Regions from separate parts of the Homo sapiens genome. Here all the other regions are linked to region 1. The links come from fine-mapping of genetic effects on gene expression. A gene starts in region 1. Each other region holds a variant in brackets. All regions are shown on one strand. Distances are from middle to middle.

Evidence for each region. PIP is the estimated chance that this variant, and not a neighbour inherited with it, causes the effect.
Region 2: its variant is fine-mapped to the expression of S100PBP in sun-exposed skin (GTEx, PIP above 0.99).
Region 3: its variant is fine-mapped to the expression of S100PBP in whole blood (INTERVAL, PIP 0.98).
Region 4: its variant is fine-mapped to the expression of S100PBP in whole blood (TOPMed, PIP above 0.99).

The regions. Positions count from the first base shown.
Region 1 is chr1:32,816,617-32,819,299 of GRCh38, forward strand. It overlaps S100PBP (S100P binding protein), which reads left to right and starts at 1,037. Exons shown (of 7, transcript NM_022753.4): 1 at 1,037-1,073. YARS1 (tyrosyl-tRNA synthetase 1) reads right to left here and starts at 742. Exons shown (of 13, transcript NM_003680.4): 1 at 572-742. The coding sequence starts at 628. RefSeq lists enhancers at 1-355, 356-855, 604-913, 1,281-1,450, 1,884-1,993 and 2 more.
Region 2 is chr1:33,545,427-33,548,109 of GRCh38, forward strand. CSMD2 (CUB and Sushi multiple domains 2) reads right to left here. Exons shown (of 71, transcript NM_001281956.2): 57 at 611-793. Among named protein-coding and RNA genes, the nearest start is that of ZSCAN20, 74 kb to the left of the region's middle. The variant G/A (reference allele first, on the strand shown) is at 1,626.
Region 3 is chr1:32,846,642-32,849,324 of GRCh38, forward strand. The region is part of intron 5 of S100PBP (S100P binding protein); the gene reads left to right. Among named protein-coding and RNA genes, the nearest start is that of FNDC5, 23 kb to the right of the region's middle. The variant C/T (reference allele first, on the strand shown) is at 1,660.
Region 4 is chr1:32,760,615-32,763,297 of GRCh38, forward strand. All of the region lies in intron 1 of NHSL3 (NHS like 3), which reads left to right. Among named protein-coding and RNA genes, the nearest start is that of NHSL3, 20 kb to the left of the region's middle. RefSeq lists an enhancer at 1-555 and a silencer at 1,190-1,410. The variant A/G (reference allele first, on the strand shown) is at 1,396.

The DNA of each region.
Region 1 (2,683 bases):
CTCTCCCTCCTTATTCTTCCATTCTTCCTCTGGTTCACTTCTACTCCTGTAGTTCTTGGTAACAAACGGAACATTTGTGGAGTGAGGGGGGGGGATCCATTTCCTTCAAGGCGCAGTTTGGAGGTCACTTCCTCAGGGAAGCCTTCCCTTCTCTCTTTCCCTTTAAAGCTCCCAGTATAGCATCTTCCAGTACTTACTTGAACCGTAATGGGTCATTTTTAACGTCTGATCCCCTTCAGACAAGCTCTGGCAGGCCCTTGACGTATCCCCAGCGACTAAGCACCACGTCTGGCACTTAATAGGGGGGTGGAATGGGAGTCCTGGATTCAAAGTTTGGCTCCAACACAAGACAACTGGACGCAAGAGGTGAGCCCACTGTGATTTCTGGGGAACCCAGGGAAGGGCTGCTTGATTGACTGACCGACCAGCAGTGAGATCTACAGGCTCTCTCAGAGCTGCGCCAGCGCCGAGTCCCCGGCCCCACATACTTAGAACCCCGTAATGGGGCTCAAAATCACTGAACCTCGGGCTCCTAATCCCCAACGGCGCATTTCCAACCCCCAGGCCTGACCTGCAGGTTCCGGGTGATAAGGTGCAGTTTCTCTTCAGGGCTGGGAGCGTCCCCCATGGCTCCGCTACCCCTGCTTCCCCCGCTCAGCCCGGCACCAGAGCCCCTTCCTGGGTCACCGTCGCCGCCGCGTGCCGGGAACTGTCACGCGAGTCCAGCCAGGTTGCATCAGCTGGGCTCGGCGCTCCGCTTACTCGGCCTGGACCCCTCCGGCAGCGGCCGGAAAAAGTGAGGAGCAGCAGAGAGTCGAGCAGGTCGATGAGACGGGAAAAGGTGGAGCCAGTGGGCACGGTGGGCGGTGCGGAGGGCGGGGCTGAGGCGCCTGAGCGGGGCACAACCCTCCTAGAGGCGGGACGGTTTCCTGCCAATCACTGCTGGTTTGCCCTCCCCCTGGTGTTGGCCCGGCTGACTCGGGGTAGGGGAGGTCGGGGAGGGGGCGATAAAATGGCGCAGGGGGCGGAGTGAGGCGCAGTCGTTCGCCCAGGCTTTGGCCCGGCTTCCGGAGGTGAAGAGCGGGAGGGACGAGGGGGTCGGCGTTACCCGGCTTGGAGGGGGATGGGGGCGCCTGTTGCTTCTCCAGGGGGTTGCGCACGCCGTCCGCCCCTTGGAGGGATTGGGAGGCCCACGCCCTGCTGCGAGAAGGGCGCGTTCTAGCTCCTGAGGTGATGGCGAGGGAATGTCCCTGCCCCTCCACCTCCAAGTCGGCGGGCGACAGATGCCCCTCACCCCGCTGAGGAAAAGGGAAGCTCCCTGGTCGTCTTGAGAGTCGGGGAGCGCCGTCTGCAGTCCCCTGCCCAGTGGGGGTGGGGGCCGCCTCTGTCCCGGCCGGCTCGGCGGGAGGCTGTTGCTGGCGGGAAGATAGCCGCGGGCTTTTCTGCCGCGTCTCGCGGGTGGGGGCAGGAAGAGGACGACCCATTCCCTGGGGAGATCTGAGGACGGTGGTCCCCGGGAGAGGAGCGCACAGCACAGGCCTGCTGAGGGGCGGGTTTGCCCCTACTGGGGGAGGGGCGGGGAGAAAACTCTCGCTTCTCCCGCTTTCCGCCGGGAGGCGGGAATTCGCGGTGTCCCCGGGGGAGGGAGACGCAAAGGCCCTTCCTGGAAGGCGACACCGTCCCGGGCCGTTGCATTTGTGAGAGAGAGCCAAGGCAGTATCCTCCAAAGGTTGGGCCTGGGCCACCCTTTCTCCGGCTCCTCAAGGGCTGGAGGCGGCGTCACCAGTTACTTCCAGGGCAAGAGGGAAAGCAGTTATTACCTCAGTGGGCCCTGGAAAGGTCCTAGAAGTGGTTGAATTGCCCACGGCCTGCCCTAACCTGATCTCCGGTGTTTTGTGTATTTATTAGGGACTCCAAGCTCTACCAGACCTGCCTGAAGTGTTTTAAAGCACATTTTCTTTTTGAAAAGAAACCTGTTGCTGCAGCTTAGCGCATCTGTTCTCTGTGTCCATGTGGGAGGAGAATCCTGGCACCCTCATCTAGTGAAATGTTACCTAAAGCAAAGATTTGCAGCCCTGGGTTGTTTTTTCCGTCCTGCAGTGTTTTTAGTTACTTCGAAGGAATTTGCAAAACTGTTACAGATAATTTCAGTTCTTTTTGATTTTTTGTAAATGTTGTGCCTATTTTTTATGGAGTGATAAAGCCTGCTGAGTGCGTTTCGTGCTGTGTGCTTCACATGTATTGCATTTGGGAAAGGTTGGAAATCAAAGGCCAGGGGGAAGTCTTGTCCACTGGAAATAATCTCTGCTCTTGGCTGTACCTGTCAGACCCTGCTTGGTAATGGTCTTGACTTTAGAGCTTGAAAGAGGATGTGGGCTTGCATCTGGTGTTGCAGTTTTAGTGGCCTCAATAAAGTAAGGCTTTGTGCTCGAAGGCAGTAGGTTTTCTGAGGTGAGATAAAAATAGAAAGGGAACCAGTTTCTGAGGTTGCAACCAGGAGGTTCGAGAACAGAGAGGGGGTGGTAAACTGAAGTGTGAAGAAGGGGGTGGACAGGTGAGAGAGATGTGGAAGGACAGAATGGGGTCACAGAAAGGATGGGGTGTAGAGGAACTAAGAAATAGAATTAGAAGATCGGAAAAATATTCTTCCCTTAAAAATGAAGGGATATGGCCAGACATGGTG
Region 2 (2,683 bases), 730 kb after region 1:
TGTTTCACGTAGTCTCTTCCCTTAGACTGTAAGCCCCAGGAGATCAAGATGTGTGTCTCCGTCTGTTCAGGCTTGGACATGGTGCCTTCTTGCTGTGTCTTCACATGGCACAAGGGAAAGGGAGCATTCTAAGGTATTTTCTTTTCTCTATAAGAGCATTAATCCCATTCCATGACCTAACAACTTCCCAAGACCCCACTTCCTAATACTATCACTGGGTGACCAGGTTTCAACATATGATTTTTGGGAGGTCACAAATATCCAGACCATGGCAGTGTCCGTCTTGGTCACCATTGTGTCCCCAGCACATTCCACAGCACTTGGCACATAGATGCTGAATGAAACTATATGGGAAATGAATGAAATAGTGGGTCAAATTCAGTCTTTTTTGATTTCTTCCCTTTTGAGGTGAGAGTGGGAATATGTTTGTCTTTTGATTACTAATGAAAATGCACATGAATTATCTGTTGCAGTCCTATCAGCCAGGCTGAGGGTTCAAATGGGGCCACGGTTTTTTTCTGTGAGCGCAGGTGCCTGGGAATAAGAGCAGGAGCAGGGGCGAGCTCTGGGGCTGGGCAAAGGGGAGAAGCAGAATGGTCACATACATTACCTCCACACTCAGGCTGCGAGCCGCTCCACGAGCCATTGGCTTGACAGGTGCGCTCTGACGATCCCCGGAGCACGTGGCCAGCTTCACAGCTGAAGCGCATCACAGTGCCTGGATCAAAGCTGTCCCCCAAACGGATGCCATGAGCCGGGATCCCAGGGTCACCGCAAACTCCCACGCTGGTTCCTATGGACCAGAACCACACAAATCCCATTATTTTTCAGGGAAGAAAAGGGAGTGGAGAAGCAGGGGAGAAAGATACTGGGATGGGACTAAGGGGATGCAGTGGGTCCCACGAATGAGGCCTAGCACAAGTTACCTGCACATGCTCCTGCCTCCATATGCAATGGTGGAAGAACACAAAGATCTGAGGCCATGGGTAAGTCCCTGGGAACCACACAGGGAGGGGAAGCAAGAAGGCAGAGGAAAGGCTCTGTGGCCCGTGCCAGTCTGGAATTTCAGTGATCCAAACTGGCCACAGGTCCTCCTTCTCCCCTTCCCCTCTTCTCTACAAACACCTGCTGATTCTGTAGTCCCATCTCCTCTCCTGTGCCACTGTCTTAGCTTAGACATTCAACATTCTTTTGCCTGAACTCTTGCAAGAGCCTCCCGACTAATGTCCCCTCCTTGTAAACTCTCCCTCTAATCCATCTTCTACTTTGTCCTCTAATCTTAACAATCACTAACCATCTGACCTTTTTTTTTTTCAAAAAATTTTTTCCTGCAGAAACATCTTTACTGGCTCCCCGATGCCATAGGATAAAGTCCAAACTGCTTAGCATAGCTTCATTTCTTAACCGCCTAGCTTGAATCTTGATCTTGGGCATTTATTTATTTATTTATTACTTTTTAAAAAGTTTCATTTTATCTTTAATTGACAAATAATCATTGTACATATTTATGGGGTAGGAAGTGATGTTTTGATGCATGTATTGTATATTTCCAAGTAGCTGTAGGAGAGAATTTTAAATGTTCTCACCACAAAGAAATGATAAATATTCAAGGTGATCGATGCTGG[G/A]CCTTTCATTAAGGATTCCCTACTCACAAATTATGCCATACAAGTGAGCTCTAGAATAAACATCTCAGACCCTCTCATTTCATTTTTGCTTCACCCCCTTCCTCTTGCTACATTCCTACATTTCTCTGGCTTCTGGTATTGTGCAAACCCACTCAAGAGACCTCCAAGGACCCAAGGAGCGAAGAAGGGTAGAGAACAGGAGACAAAGCCACAAGATCTATGGTCCCCTGCAGGGCCAACACATTTCATGATACAGAAATGTGTAGGAGATGTCCTTAGATCAGACCAGGCCATGGTAAACATGAGGAAAGAGGAGAACAATTACCGAATAAATGACAACTGCATGAAAAGATAAAGTTACAACTATCATGGAATCTATCTCCTCATGTAACCATGTGTGGGCATCAAATGGTAACATCTGAGTGACCACATCTAGTTGGCTGGAGCCAATAAATGTTTAAGTCATGTGTACCCCACCACTTGCCATTTATGTCTTTTCCACTTCTCAACCTTGGGATTATTCCCTTTCCTAGTCTCGACTCAGACTGTGAGACACTACCTAACCACATGTTCTCCATTCTGTTTCCCACTGTGGAAGAGGGATTCATTTTCAACCTTCAATGTAAACATTAATAAAAGAGAGCTTATCGCATTTGGCTAGGTTTTCTTATCTTTTGAAGGTTGCCAGGATGTAATTCACACAACAGGCAGAACTGGGTCTCCCTGGAAACAATCTTGATGGTGAGCAGCTCTAACCCACACACTGGCTAGCTAACCTCAGCTGGAGCTAGCACTATTGTAAAATAGGCACAAGATGGTTAACGTGGTTTGGCTCTGTGTCCCCATTCAAATCTCATGTTGAATTGTAATCCCCAGGTTGGGGAAGAGACCTGGTGAGAGGTGATTGGATCATGGGGTGGATTTCCCCCTTGCTGTTCTCGTGATAGTGAGTGAGTTCTCATGAGATCTGGTTGTTTGAAAGTGTGTTGCACTTTGCTCTCCCTCTCCTGACAGCCGTGTGAAGATGTGCCTGCTTCCCCTTCTGCCATGATTGTAAG
Region 3 (2,683 bases), 30 kb after region 1:
GTTGCCTAGGCTAGAGTGCAGTAACATGATTATAGCTCACTGTAGTCTTGACCTCCTGGCCTCAAGCAAGCCTCCCACCTCATCCTTCAAAGTGTTGGGATTACAGGCATGTTATTTTTACTTTAAACAGTAAATTATCTTTCTTTTTTTTTTTTTTGAGACGGAGTTTCACTCTTGTCGCCCAGGCTGTAGTGCAGTGGTGCGATCTCAGCTCACCGCAACCTCCGCCTCCAGGTTCAAGCGATTCTCCTGCCTCAGCCTCCCTAGTAGCTAGGATTACAGGCATGTGCTACCACACCTGGCTAATTTTGTATTTTTAGTAGAGACGGGGTTTCTCCATGTTGGTCAGGCTGGTCTCGAACTCCCAACCTCAGGTGATCCGCCCACCTTGGCCTCCCAAAGTGCTGGGATTACAGGCATGAGCCACCGTGCCTGGCCGTAACAGTAAATTATCTTTTAAAGACATCATCTAAATAGGAAAAATAGCCTTTTATATGCACTCACATACTTACATTTCCAGTGCTTTTGATTATTTTGTATAGATCCAAGTTTCGATGTGATATTATTTTCCTTTTTCCTAATGAACAACTTGTAATGTTTGTTGTAGTGCACATCTACTGATGAAGTCTCTCTGCTTTTATTTAGAACCTGTTTATTTTGCCTTCATTTAAAAAACTTTTTATTTTGAAAAATTATAGACTTATAAGAAGTTTCAAGACTCACCTCAGTTGTTTCTCTTTCCTCGGGGATCACAATTTTCAGTAGTCTGAAAGCACTTGTTTCATAATTTTGCCTAGTTTCTAGTAGCTTACAGTGAGAGGTTAAGTCCCCCATTCATCTTAGCTACAAGTGGAAATATCTGCTTTGATTTTTATTGAAGATCATAAACAGCAATGGTTATATAAATTCTGATTCTGAATTTCCCAGTACTGTTGAGGACATTCATATATCATTCAGTATCCCCTGTATCACTTCATAAGTGAATTACATAATAACTCCTGTTTCTTCTACTTTTTCCCTTGCCTGCAAGGAAAATCAGTCAAGATTTCTACTAGATCATCGCAGTTTTGTTGACCTAGAGGTGACACATTTGCATTCTTGCCTTCTACTTATTTTTTCTTTTCATTTATATTTTATTAATCTATTTATAAAAGCAGTAGCCCATGTCCCCTGTAGCACATTTTTTCTTTCCTTCTCTCTTCATTCCCTCCCTGGTATTAAGTACTTTACATTGCATGGAATAGAGATATTATGATAGCCTTTAAGTAACTGAGTTTAAGGATTTACAGGAAAAGATGATTAGATGAGACTTTTCACCAGGTCTCGTAGTGAAAAGAATTAACCGTAGAGCCGAACTACACGCTCCGTCAGAAATGTGTGCCTCTAACTAGGTGCTGCAGCTCACACCTGTAATCCCAGCACTTTGGGAGGCCAAGGTGGGTGGATCATGAAGTCAGGAGTTCGAGACCAGCCTCGCCAAGATGGTGAAACCCCATCTCTACTAAAAATACAAAAATTAGCCGAGTATGGTGGCGGGCACCTGTAATCCCAGCTACTCGGGAGGCTGAGGCAGGAGAATTGCTTGAAACCGGAAGGCAGAGTTTGCAGTGAGCCAATATCGAGTCACTGCACTCCAGCCTGGGCAAAAGAGCGAAACTC[C/T]GTCTCAAAAAAAAATAAAGAAAAAAGAAATGAGTGCCTCTGTTCCCTATTGGGATTTTCCCTAATCTAATCTGCTTCTGTGACCAGTACTTTTGCTGCTATTTAGCTATCTCAAGTAACTGTTTTTCCTAGAGCCCTGCATGTGTACTGTTCTCTCTTGTTCTCATTACTAAAGCTCACATTGACATTTCAAAGAAGAGTATCTGATTGGTTTACTTAATGACCTGCTGGTACCAGGCAGCCTTCTAGGTCATTATGTCATTAGCCAGCTGAGAGAGTCTCTGTTCTTTGGTCATGTGCCACACTTGATTGAGTTAGGGTCATGTGGGTGGTAAAAAGTATTATGTCCTATAAAACCTGTCAGAATTGGCATAGCAGGTACTCAGCATTATCCGTCCTCCTCCATTATGATATAAAAATTGATTCACTTTAAACTTACTAAGAACAGTTATTAAACTGGATGTTTCCCCAAAACCAGTCACCTTCATATTTATAGATTAAGATTTAGATGAATTGTTGACGTCATTCCTGAAATATTGGGGGTTTTTCCCTCCTTTATTTCATTCTTAGTCACAAAACAAAGGACAGTCTTTACCACCTTTTTGCCACAACTTAAAATAAACCCATGGTACTGATTGTTGGTCCAAGAAAGCCCATCTGTTAGAGACTATGAAGAGAAGAGAAAATTCAAATGTTCCCATTCTTGTTAGCATCTCTAAATTTGGAGGAAGATGAGGTTCAAACTATAAGCTAAAATGAGGTTTTTGGATTATTAGCCCCACCTGGGTTTGAATCCTGGCTTTCCTGATTTACTAGATGATAGATGAGTATCTTTTCTTTCTTTTTTTTTCTTTTTTTTTTGGAGACAGTGTCTTGCTCTGTCACTCAGGTTGGAGTGCAGTGGTATGATCATGGCTCACTGCAGCCTCCACCTCATGGGCTCAGGTGATCCTCCCACCTCAGCCCCCTGGAGTCGATGGGACTACAGGTGTGTACTACCACACCCGGGTACTTTTTGTAGAGA
Region 4 (2,683 bases), 56 kb before region 1:
GAGTGTCACTCTGTCACCCAGGCTGGAGTGCAATGGCGTGGTCTTGGCTCACTGCAACCTTCGCCTCCTGGGTTCAAGCGATTCTCCTGCCTCAGCCTCCTGAGTAGCCGGGATTACAGGAGCTCGACACCATGCCCAGCTAATTTTTGTATTTTTAGTAGAGACGGGCTTTCACGGCGTTGGCCAGGCTGGTCTTGAACTCCTGACCTCGCGATCCACCCGCCTTGGCCTCCCAAAGTGCTGGGATTACCGGTGTGAGCCACCGCACCCGGCCATGTGGGTGTGGTTTTGAGAGTGCCCACCTGCGGAGGTGGCCCCAGTGGGACGCTGCCTGCTGCCTGAGTCTCTGCCCTGGTAAACTGTCTCTGAGTTGAGGAGCCCGCAGGTGTGCTTCCCGGTGTGCCCTCCGTGCTGGGGGCGTGGCCACCAGGAGCAAGGTGTCTTCTCAGATCCAGGAAGCCTCCTCCCCCAGGCATGTTGGGGATGGGGGTGTGGTATGGGATGCTTCCCTCATGGCCTCAGCCCTAGGCTGCACCTCTGGACTGCCAGGGGCAGAAATCCCTGGAACAAGGACTCTAAGCGTGGCTGTGGGCAAGGTCTTTCCACTCTCTGGACCTCAGTTTCTTTGTGAAGTACCCCTCCCAGTCACCTGAGACTCAGGTTGCTGAGCCCCTCCCCAAGCGAGCCACAGGTGTATAGATCTGGGGTGACTCGGAGAGGCTGCGAGCTCTGACTTGGGTGGGGAGGGGGAGGGGTGTCGCTGGGGCAACCAGATGTTATCAAGTGTAAGCCCTTGGATCTCTGGGAATTTGCAGCTGTGGCCCTGACTGCCAGCTGTGGGCCTGGGACCTTGATGAGCTGATGTTCCTCCACCCCCATCTTGGCAGGAGCTCAGCCCTTAGTTTCCCTGGTTAGAGGGTAGCTGAAGATGACTGTCCTGTGTGGTGAAAGGCTCCAGTTTTAGAGCCAGCCAGAGTTCAGGAAGTCACTTAGCTCTCTGAGCCTCGCAGGCCCATGATCAATTACTAGGAAAGTACCTTCCAGTACCTGCCTCGAAGAACTTTTGTAAGAGCCATGAGGACAGAGACTACGTTTTGCCTTTCACCACGACCTGGCATGGTGCCTGGCATGAATTAATCACCCTGCAAATGTCGGTCTACTGGTCTTTTCTGTTTGTGTGAGACTGATAAGAAGAGTGGGTGGGTGGGTGGATCTGGCCTAAGAGGGGAAGAGTGGGGAAGGTAGGTGGTCGAGAAACCTCCAATTTGTAGGGATGATGGGGTCCCATGACCCTTTTTCAGAGGGGAGATCAGGTTTGTAGCTGGCACAGTGCACAGAACGTGGCTTTTGGATTCAAGTTGTTCTGAGTGAGAATACTGCTTTGCCATTTACACC[A/G]TGGAGGCCAGAGAGGGCAGCTTTATAATGCTTGCTCCCTCTGGTTTCCATTTCCTCATCTATAAAATGGGAATAAAAGTGCCTACTTCTTAGGATTATTGTTTAGATCTCATTGATTTGTTGATGTGACTATTCAGCTCCACAAATGTTTGTTCTCTGGAGAGCAAGATCTCAGCTTGTACTTGAGTAGTCTCCAAGAGGCCAGTGTTAGGGTGGCAGCAACTGGGGAAGGAACTGCAGGGGGGTCGTGTTGCTTGGGAGCCTCTGTGAATTTTTAGTTCCCTAGGGACTCAGAGAGAAAGATGCTATGACAGAGAGGTGTCCTTAGGCACGGCTGGTGGGATACTGCACAGATACATATATATAGTTCACAGACTCTCTTTCACAGTCTCTGCTATGTTTTTTAGAGTTATCAGGGGAATCTTTTTTTTTTTTAAGCTTTATTTTTATATATTTACTTTTTTTTTTTTAGAGACAGGGACTTACTGTGTTGCCCAGGCTGTAGTGCAGTGGTACAATTATAGCTCACTGTAACCTCGAACTCCTGGGCTCAAGCCCAGCCTCCCAGGAAATCTTTTATTTATTTTTTTTTTTGAGACGGAATTTTTTTGCTCTCTTGCCCAGGCTGGAATGCAATGGCTGCGATCTCGGCTCACTGCAATCTCTGCCTCCCGGATTCAAGCGATTTTCCTGCCTCAGCCTCCCAAGTAGCTGGGATTACAGGCGCCCGCCACCGCGCCTTGCTAATTTTTGTATTTTTAGTAGAGACGGGCTTTCACCATATTGACCAGGCTGGTCTCAAACTCCTGACCTCGTGATCCACCCACCTTGGCCTCCCAAAGTGCTGGGATTACAGGCATGGGCCACCACGCCCGGCCCGGTCTTGAACTCTTGACCTCAGGTGATCTGCCCACCTCAGCCTCCCAAAGTGCTAGGATTACAGGTGTGAGCCACAGTGCTAGCCTGGAATTTTTTTTTTTTTTTTTTTTGAGACGGAGTCTCTCTCTGTCACCCAGGCTGGAGTGCAATGGTGCAATCTCAGCTCACTGCAACTTCTGCCTCCTGGGTTTGAGCAATTCTCTCACCTCTGCCTCCTGAGTAGCTGGGACTACAGGTACACACCACCACCATGCCCGGCTCATTTTTGTGTTTTTAGTAGAGACAAGGTTTCACCATGTTGGTCAGGCTGGTCTTGAACTCCTGACCTCAAGTGATCCACCTGCCTCAGCCTCCCAAAGTGCTGGGGTTACAGGCGTGAGCCACCGTGCACGGCCAGAATATTTTTTAA